2 linked regions of the Homo sapiens genome follow. Changing the gene in region 2 together with the main gene of any one other region gives a genetic interaction. Each region holds a gene or a part of one and is shown on either strand. Other genes may lie near its edges.

Region 1 (2,978 bases), on a different chromosome or scaffold from region 2:
TGGGTCCCCGCTGTAAGGACCAGGTGGCGGGGACAGGGTGAGCGCACAGTCCGGGTCCCCGCTGTAAGGACCAGGTGGCGGGGACAGGGTGAGCGTACAGCCCAGGTTTCCGCTGTAAGGACCAGGTGGCGGGGACAGGGTGAGCACACAGTCCGGGTCCCCGCTGTAAGGACCAGGTGGCGGGGACAGGGTGAGCGCATAGCCCAGGTCCCCGCTGTAAGGACCAGGTGGTGGGGATGGTGGGGACAGGGTGAGCACACAGTCCGGGTCCCCGCTGTAAGGACCCGGTGGCGGGGACAGGGTGAGCACACAGTCCAGGTCCCCGCTGTAAGGACCCGGTGGCGGGGACAGGGTAAGCGCACAGCCCACGTCCCCGCTGTAAGGACCAGGTGGCGGGGACAGGGTGAGCGCATAGCCCAGGTCCCCGCTGTAAGGACCAGGTGGTGGGGATGGTGGGGACAGGGTGAGCATGCAGCCCAGGTCCCTGTTGTAAGGGAAGGTCGCGCAGCTGGGCTGGAATTCTGGGCTCAGCCCCTCCCTTACTCACAGGCCCCCCTTCCTGGATGGTGGAGGTGCCCAGGCACCACCCTTGTTGTCTGCTCATGGCCTTGGGGTGGGTCCTACCGAGCTAGGGAAGCCTGGGGGCCGTAGGGAGCCCAGAGTCAGCCTGGAGGAGGTGGCGCTTTGGTGAGTTTGGAAGGCAAGCAGGGGTGAGCTGCAGGGGGCCAGGAAAGGGTGACTGTGACTCTGGGAGCAGCCGTGCCAAGGCCCTGGGACAGGAGGGGCTTGGCCAGCCTCAAGGCCTTACTCCAGCCCACTGCACTCTCAGATTCCAGCTCCCTGGGGCAGGTGAGATGGCCGAGCCAGGTCCTTGGATGATCTCTGTTCCTGTTCCCCTCTTCCCAGGAAGCGCCGCGGAGCCATCAACAGCAAGCAGCTCACCTACCTGGAGAAATACCGGCCCAAACAGAGGCTGCGGTTCAAAGACCCACACACGCACAAGACCCGGTGCTGCGTTATGTAGCTCAGGACCTTGGCTGGGCCTGGTCGTCATGTAGGTCAGGACCTTGGCTGGACCTGGAGGCCCTGCCCAGCCCTGCTCTGCCCAGCCCAGCAGGGGCTCCAGGCCTTGGCTGGCCCCACATCGCCTTTTCCTCCCCGACACCTCCGTGCACTTGTGTCCGAGGAGCGAGGAGCCCCTCGGGCCCTGGGTGGCCTCTGGGCCCTTTCTCCTGTCTCCGCCACTCCCTCTGGCGGCGCTGGCCGTGGCTCTGTCTCTCTGAGGTGGGTCGGGCGCCCTCTGCCCGCCCCCTCCCACACCAGCCAGGCTGGTCTCCTCTAGCCTGTTTGTTGTGGGGTGGGGGTATATTTTGTAACCACTGGGCCCCCAGCCCCTCTTTTGCGACCCCTTGTCCTGACCTGTTCTCGGCACCTTAAATTATTAGACCCCGGGGCAGTCAGGTGCTCCGGACACCCGAAGGCAATAAAACAGGAGCCGTGGCCGTGTGTGTGGAGTGGGCTACAGCGTCAGGCGGGGCGGGCTGGTGGCCTGGGGGCCCCAGAGGCTGCTGTCTGGATCCTGGGCTGGTGCCCAGGATGGGGCTCCCGCGTGCTCTTGCGCTGCCCTCTGGTGGCCGCTCTGGGTCCTTGCACCCCGACCCAGGGGCCAGCCTGCCCTGTCCTGTCCTGATACCGAGGTGGGAGCCCTGCCTTGGCCAGGGTGGCCGTGTTGACGGTTCTTGGGACTGTGACATTGGAAGGCGAGGCAGGTCACCAGCACTGTCCTCTGCAGGATGGGCTGGGATTCATTTGGCAGCTTCTCAGGGCCTGTGTCCGGCTGGTTGGTCCCTGTGCTGCCCAAACCAGGTGTCCACATTTCCGGCTCCGAGGCGCAGAGAAGGGGGCAGGTGGTGGCTTGGGTGGAGGAAGTCACCATCCATCAGCCCAGGGAGGGAGGGTGCCACCTGGGCACCTGGGGCTGGATGTGAGAGGCCTGGACCAGGGCCCGCCGGAGGGCGTGGACCAGATGCTCATGTGTTCCTGGGTGCAGTGTCTGTGTTGGGGGCTGGCCCCACCCTGGGCCGGGGTGCATGGAGGGCATGGCCCCAGCGGGGAGGAAGGTGGGCCTAGGGCTGGCTCCAGGGTGTGGAGAGCCTGGGAGTGGTCTCCGTCCTGGGGCCCCAGGAGGTTCCCGCAAGGAGCGACTGGGGCAGGTGCTGGAGGAGGTCAGTGGACAAGATGGGGAGATGTGGAAACCCCAAAAGCCCCTTCTCAGGCAGCCCTGCCCCCAAGACCGACAGATGGCTAAGGGGGCCGCAGACCTGGCTCCCCCAGCTCCTGTGTGGAGAAAGGGCAACAGCTGTCCCGGATGGTTATTCTCTCCTTTCCTCAAACACATTTGGAACTCAAGTAAATCCAATGCATGTTGGGTGAAGTTTGCTGTATTTTTTCAATCCACCAGCCAAGTTTTGGGGTCACCTCTGCTGGCCCTGTGTAGCCATGTCCCTGCCCCAAGAGGCTCACAGTCTAGCAGGGTTGGGGGGAAGACAGGCTGGTAAGCCTCCCAGTTACAGCTAGGGGTGCTCCACCTCGGGGGGTGGCGGGGACAGGGGGCATGGAGGTGGGGCCTTGGGGTGCTGCACCTTGGGGGGACTGAGGGACAGGGTGCATGGAGGCAGGGCCTCAGGGTGCTCCACCTTGCCGGGGGGACGGGGGAATGGGGGGCATGGAGGCGGGGCCTTGGCGTGCTCCACCTTGGGGGGCAGGGGAAATGGGGGCATGGAGGTGGGGCCTTGGTGTGCTCTACCTCGTGGGGCAGGAGAAATGGGGGCATGGAGGTGGGGCCTTGGTGTGCTCCACCTTGTTAGGGGGCAGGGGGACAGGGGCATGGAGGCGGGGCCTGGGGGGGGCACAGTGCAGAGTACCACGTCGGGAGGTGGGGGAGATGCCCCAGGTGGAAGGACTGCCTGAGCTGAGTG
Region 2 (6,978 bases):
GACGTAGAGCTCACATTCTCGAAGGCTGCGTGCCTCCTCACTGGCGGCGGTACTGCCAGACTCCATGGTTCTCTGCGAGAAAAAAACACACACATGCTTGTATAAACTATAAAGCAAAATGTCAATCTGGCATTTAACTTGCTAAATTCATTAGACAACTGATTCACAGGGATTTTTTTCTAAGTAGATTTTGTTTTTAAACAGGGAAGTGGGGACTAGGGAATAAAATATGTACAGAATTAGCATTATTCCAAGTAAATGTTTCATTTAGTTCAGGATCTGTGCTCTGTAGGCAACAGTGAGAGTCGATAACCTCAGCTCCTGGGAGGAAGTATGAGCCACTAACCTCTGCAGAGACGGGTGCTGAAGTCAGGCCCTTAAGGGAATTTCATTCAGTTCTCCCTCAAAAGAAATCATGATGACGTGGGAAGTAGGTAAACGGTAAACAGGATACAGAATTACCAGGGCACAAAAGTCAACTGTAAGCGAAAGCAAGTCAGCACAATGAAGAATATCTGACATTCCCTATACGTAACTTCTATCCCATGGGAGTATCCTAACGTCACAGAGCAAACCACTGGAGTGAGGATCTGATTAGCCAACTACTAGCATAATCAAAATTTTTAAAAACACACAAGAAAATTAGATGAGTTTTAAAAGCAACCTTTATTCCAGACTCGTTTGCCAGATTCCACCCCTAAATGATAATACACTAGTGGTAAAAGAAGGAAAATCCTTAGTTGGGGGAGGGGAGAATTCTTACCACATAAACTGTAAAACATTTGGACAGAAAATTGTCAAAATATTTTCTTCATCTTGACAGGAGAATGTTAAAACACTTAAGTTTCAAACTTGCATGAAGATTCAATAGATAAATTGCATTTAATGGATTACATTTAATGGATAAATTGCATTTAATGGATTTTAGAGGATTCGAATTATGGTACCTTTATGTAAAGTAAAGCAAACAGAGATAATGATGAGCAGCTAACCTTACCCTAGAATTAAAAGTTTACTAATTTAACAACAGGGTCATATACTGTTTTCCTTCCAACTCCTAATTACTAAGCACTTAAGAGTAGAAGACAAGAGTGTGGTCCCCTCCACTCAGCAACTGAATTCAATACTAATCAGACTTTTCCAATTATAATGCATTGTAAACTATTGAGATGAAACTGTAAATTTAAAAGAACTTATAGAAAGAATTAACAGAGTAAAGAGCTATTCTAAAGTGCTACACTGTTACTCATTTTGTTTTGACAACTTTCACCATAAAGGTCAACAACAAGTAGACTAATTAACAGACCATTAGAAAGTTCGTGGCTCCAAGACAAGCACATAAATTAGAAGCCATGGAAAAATAATCATGCTGCTACTTTAAACAGGCAAAACAAAAACAAAAACGCGCATTTACTTTAGGATAGATTTATACAAGCCACTTCTCCAGGTCAGGCAATCATATGAACTGAAGATCCACTTCAGTAGAATTGTCTGCATTTCAAATAATACTTAAAGGCCACCAAGAACAATCATAAATCAGATCTTTCATGCTTCAAAGCATTGTCATATTTTAAGAACATTCAAATGATCAATCATTCTAAGATCAGGTCTTTGGCTGGTAGAGATGAGAGAACTGGGCCTAAGGAGTGAAACTGTGTTTTTGTTTGAAACAACTAATGTATTACGAAAACCAAAAAGATAGCCACCGGTAATAGGACAGTATACGAACAGAAATGTACCAAAATTAATGCAGTCACCATGTAAATCCCTGAATAACCAGACTTCACAGTCTTAATATTTTTAATCGAGTTACCCGGATTCTCTATGTGTACTTATTTGTAAAGCCCAACAACCTAGCCTTCCCTCCCCACACACAATTATTTAACTGCTTTAAAACTTTCGCTGCATTGTCTCTATGTAAAACAAAACACTCAGATTCATTCTTTTGAAAATTCAGTTGTGACAAAATTGTTTCGAAAGGATTACATTCTGGGAAATAAATAAAAACACTTTGAGAAACTGTTCCTGATTCAGACCGCACCCCCTTAGACCAGCCAAGTTACGGCTCCCCTAGGGTCATCTTGAGTAAGTGTTTGCTTTCCTCGCTCTGCTAAAAAGACGGATCTCTTGGGAATCTCTCAAGGAGTAGGACGGTCGTCACCACAGGCTCTGAGCTGAAGAGGTTAATAGGTACCGTGTATTTTCTAGAAGAAGGGCAGGAAAATGCCCTTCACTTCACGTAGGCCACGGTCATGACCACAAAATGAAGGGAAGCCGAGACTTCAAGCTACGCCAGTCGGAAGGCCACAGTGGTGGCGAGGAGGCCTCAGGGGGGCAAAATTGGGAAAGGGAGAGAGGTGAAAGGGGACAAGAGGAAATTCAGGAGCCCGACTAAGACCGTCGTGTTGGGGGAAAGATCACTCCGCTATGAAGAGGAAAGGCTACTGCTAGCAATGACGAGTCGTCAAAAGTGGAGAGGAAAACTACCGGCTTACAAGAAGAGCCAGGACCGGCGGACGAGACGATGGCGGACCCCAGTAAAATAGAGCCGTTGTCCTTCAGGAAATGGGGGAGGGTGAGCGAAGAGGCCGCGGCGCGCGGGGGCGAAGGCGGCCGGGGAGGGCCGCGGAGGGCCCAGGGCCCCAGGAGCCGTGGGGTGGGGGCAGCGAGCGCGAGCGGGGCGGCTGGGGAGCCCCGCACCAAAGCCAACGCCCAGACGGCCTTGAGGATGCAGACTCGGAGCCGGGGGCGTGAGGCCTGCGGGGAGGCGCCCGCCGGGCCGGGGAGGGGCAGGGGGTGCGGCCGTCCCCCTGCAGGTCGCTCCCCGTGACGCCATCTTGGATCGGTCCAGCTCCCGCAAACCGGCTGCGAAGCGACGAAGCTCACCTCGCCTGAGCCCCCGGCCGACCCCACTCACCTGGGGACGGGCGGCGGCGGGCGCGAGGCTGCGGGTGCGAGGCGGCGGCGTACCGAGCTCCCTCAGCGCTTTGCTCCCAGCCCCGCTCCACTCTGCGATAGCGGCTAGGCGACAGCTCCACCGGAAACGGCCTGGCCGCAGCCAATCAGCGTTCGGCTACTGACGTCAATGCGCCTCGCTCTGGCCAGAACCGTCGCCTTAGCAACCTTAAGGGCGCAACAGCCCCAGTTCCTCCCCCCTGGTCGCTCTTGGAAGGACCCTCACTCTGCGGTCGTTCGTCTTCCGCCATTCTTTCCATCTTACTCGTCCCTTATCCACAGCAGTTTCCTCACGCCCGCCACTTCTCCTTTCCGCAGTCTCCCTAGCCCGGTTCTCTCCTCCTTCCTGCTCACCTGCCCCTCCTTACCTGTCCCTCTCTGGGTGTCTTGGGTCGCCTTTGTTCCTCCGCCTGCTCTTCGCTCTCTCTCCGCGCAGCTATCGTGCGCTTCCCTCTCGTCCCTCCGCTCCTCTGTCCACCCCACTCTCCCTCCGGCCTCCCTTGACGCCTCTGCCTTTTCTCCCTCCTTTCCACCCCCTCCCTGGCCGACCCACGTGGGGCGTCTCAGATGACAGGTGGGCGACTCCTCCCCGCAGCCCCTGCAAGGGAGGGCCCCGGGCCGGGGCGGGGAGAGTCCTGTCGCTGCCAGCCCCCGGAGGAGGTGGCGGCCCCCGCGGATCTGCAGCAGCTGCGCTGCGGGGCCGAGCGCGGGCGGATGGCCGGGATGCGCTCTCCGGGCCGCGCATCCTGTGCCCGGCCAGCGCCGCCCGGGCCCCGGGCTCAGGTCAGTCATCCGGTCCAGGAAACCTGAGCCCTGCCGAGTCTCCGCTGGGGCCGCTCTCCCCCGCCGGGGGTGCTGTCGTCTGTGCAGGCAACACCGTCCCTGTGGAAACCAGGCACGGGAAAGGACTTTGTCAGGGTCCAAGAGGAGGCCTGAGTCCTTCTAGAACCTGAAGTGCCCCCCCATCACTCCTGACCTCACAGAGGGAGAAGTGCAGAGCGTGCAGATTGTCAAAAATGCCCTGTGACCCAACAAGAAATCGCAGCTGTCCAGACAAGCTGCACTAATGGGGAAAATTCGGAGGAAAAGCGACTTTACTCTTTCAGCCATTTTTTTTTTCCATCAGAGTATCTGTCTAAGGAGGAAGAAAAGGGAGACGGTACAATTTTAGACACATCAAGTCTGTAACTCAATAAAGAAGGCCCATCAAGGAAACATGTCCAAGTGTCTGGCTAGGGGCTGCTTTAGTAGCATTGTATATATTTCTAGGGCCGTGTGCTTAAAATTCATAATGGATTCAACACAATACAAAAAAGCAAAATACACACATATGCAAGTGTCCAGGAGCTGTTGTAGTAACATTGTATATACTTCAAGGGCTGTATGTTTAAAGTAAATCATGAACTCAACACAATACAAAAAAGTAGCTCAATAGTGTTTATATTGATTCCAGATTGAAATGATAATATTTTTGATATATTAGGTAAAATATTAAAGTTAATTTCACTTTTGTTTTTTAATTCTTAGTGTAGCTATTAAAAAGTTTAAAGTTACACAGATGGCTCCCATTATATTCCTATTGGGCAGCGCTGCCCTCGGAGGCCGACTGCTCCCCCAAATCCACCAGGCTCTAAGGGTACTGTCCATCAGATGATTTATTTAGTTATGTTATTCACTGCCTTCTGATAGGGATACATAGGCGATATCAAAAGGGCAATCAGGCTTACAGGGGGGAATGGAAAAGGGAAGTTTCTCCTTTCACTGACTCCCCAAATGTTGACCATTGGCCCTTCTCCAGGGTTGATCAGAAATGGGGATAAAAGAGCCTCAGTCAGATAGGATTTCACTCTTGACAGTACAAAGAAGGGTTGATAAACTGAACCCTACGCTGGCAAGCAGCAGAGGGAATTTGATAGCATTGAGCAGGCCCGGTCATGTTATGGGAAGAAAATATTGCAGTCAGGTAAATCTGAGTTTGGTTTCAGGCTCTGCCATGTCCGGTAATTGACTTAATCTCCATGGGTGTCCGTTTCCTCGGTCATAAAAGGATGAACAGGACTTTGTTGAAGTTAACTACTAAGGGTATAACAGCAAACACACGTATAGCACTTACTGTGTTCCAAGCACTGATCTAAGGGCTTTACACATAATTAATTTAATCCTCATAGTAACTCTTAACATAGGTAATATTGTTATTGTTACAGAAAAAAACATGAGACATGGAGAAGTTAAGTGACTTGCCCATGGCCACACAGCTAACATGGCTTAAACCCAGGCAGTGATCTTAATCACTCTCCATTGCAGAATAGATAGATCTCTCTCTCTCTCTCTCTCTCTCTCTCTCTCTCTCTGTCTACATATATATATATGGTGTTCAGTACAGTGGGGGATATATTAAATGAATGTTAATTTACTTCCCATTTCTCCCTCTTCCTGCAGAGCTACCCAAACTACAAGGTTAAGTCAGAGTGACACTATGTCCCACCATTAGTGTTACCTTCCAAGTGCAGTTAAGACACTAAGAATAAGGAAACAAGCAAGCTGCTGACATTGAGCTGAGCACTTTGAGTGACAGCTGCTTCCTTGCTGAGTCCTGGCTGTGTGTCCCCATTCAGCTGCATGCAGGCGCCAGTCCAGCCACGGGCCATTTCCTGTGTCAGTCACACTCAACCTTGTTCTAGGTGCCAAATCCTCATATGCTGGGGCTTTAGGAGACATAAAGGGAAATGGGCAGTAGACAGTTGAGCCCGGGGAAAGTTCAGTGAGACAGCTGTTCTGAAAAACTAAATAGCCTCAGTGCTTTCCAAATGGTGCAAATGTTCTTTCAGTGCCACTGTGCCACTGTGAGAATACCAACTTGTTGGTATTCGTAAATTATGTTTCAGAAATGACATTTGTTCCACTGTAGTTTCTGTATGGTTTCCCTTCTCCAGAGGCCTTCTGCCCTTGATTCAAAGGTCTGTTAGCCTTTCCTTTGGACTGTGTCCTTGAGAAACTCAGTTTAAAAATATGTTTCTAGAGTAGTGGGATTATAAGTAAATTTTCCTGTTTAACTGGTGGCTAACATCTGTAATCCCATCACTCTAGGAGGCCCAGGCTGGAGGCTTCCTTGGGCCCAGGAGTTCAAGACCAGCCTGGGCAACACAGTGAGACCGCCGTCTCTACAAAAAAATTTTAAAAATTAGCCAGATGTGGTGACCCACGCATGTACTGGGAGGATTGCTTTAGCCCAGGAGGTCAAGGCTGCAGTGAGCCATGATCGCACCACTGCACTGCAGCCCTGGCCACACAGCAAGACCTTCCCACTCAAAAAACGAAAAAGAAATTGCATAATTGCTGTTACAATGCTTGTGAAACAATACCAAAAACCATAAAAGCAAAATAAACATGAGTGATAAGCAGAAATAGAATTAAGAAAGCTAAAACGTGAAAGGAAGGAATACTTTGGTGGTCCATTTCTTGGTGGTTCTTGCACCTAAAGTTTCCATTGGCTAAACACAGATCCACGTATTTCCAATTTCAAAGTCCATCACCACCTACTTATGGTGTACAATGGTACTGAGTACTTATACTTCCTAGGAGACCCAAAGTTGTGGTTTCAGACATAACTAATTCCAGCAAACACCCGAATGCCAAAATGTCTTCCTACTTTTCTCACTGGCAAATGCTCATTTAAACTAAGGAGGGGTGTTTATCTTGAGCATTAATTGAAAATATTAACCAAGAAACCAGAAGGGTGGCAAACTTGGATCTAACACTAAAGCGTTCCAAGTAAAAATATCTTAATCTAAAACATATCTTCATCAAAAATAGCATATTTACTTATTCATTCAACTTTTATTTTAGATTCAGGGGTACAGGTGCAGGTTTGTTACCTGGGTATATTGTGTGATGCTAAGGATTTGGGTACAAGTGATCCCATCACCCAGGTAGTGAGCATAGTACCCAATAGTTTTTAAATCCTTGCTCCCCGACTCCCCCTTCTAGTAGTTCCAGGTATCTATTGCTGCCATCTTTATGTCC

Evidence for each region. A genetic interaction does not mean that the proteins touch.
Region 1: changes in PRKAR1A (region 2) and PTP4A3 together harm fitness less than expected from each alone (positive genetic interaction), as found in Homo sapiens cells (one study listed by BioGRID).

What each region holds. Positions count from the first base shown.
Region 1 is NC_000008.11:141,430,021-141,432,998, forward strand, and holds the end of PTP4A3 (protein tyrosine phosphatase type IVA 3), read left to right. Parts: intron 1-906; coding exon 907-1,024; 3' UTR 1,025-2,434; downstream 2,435-2,978. UniProt on the Homo sapiens protein: Protein tyrosine phosphatase which stimulates progression from G1 into S phase during mitosis. Enhances cell proliferation, cell motility and invasive activity, and promotes cancer metastasis.
Region 2 is NC_000017.11:68,508,488-68,515,465, reverse strand, and holds the start of PRKAR1A (cAMP-dependent protein kinase type I-alpha regulatory subunit), read right to left. Parts: upstream 3,037-6,978; 5' UTR 2,918-3,036; exon of another isoform or gene 2,488-2,917; intron 480-2,487; exon of another isoform or gene 347-479; intron 73-346; 5' UTR 67-72; coding exon 1-66. UniProt on the Homo sapiens protein: Regulatory subunit of the cAMP-dependent protein kinases involved in cAMP signaling in cells.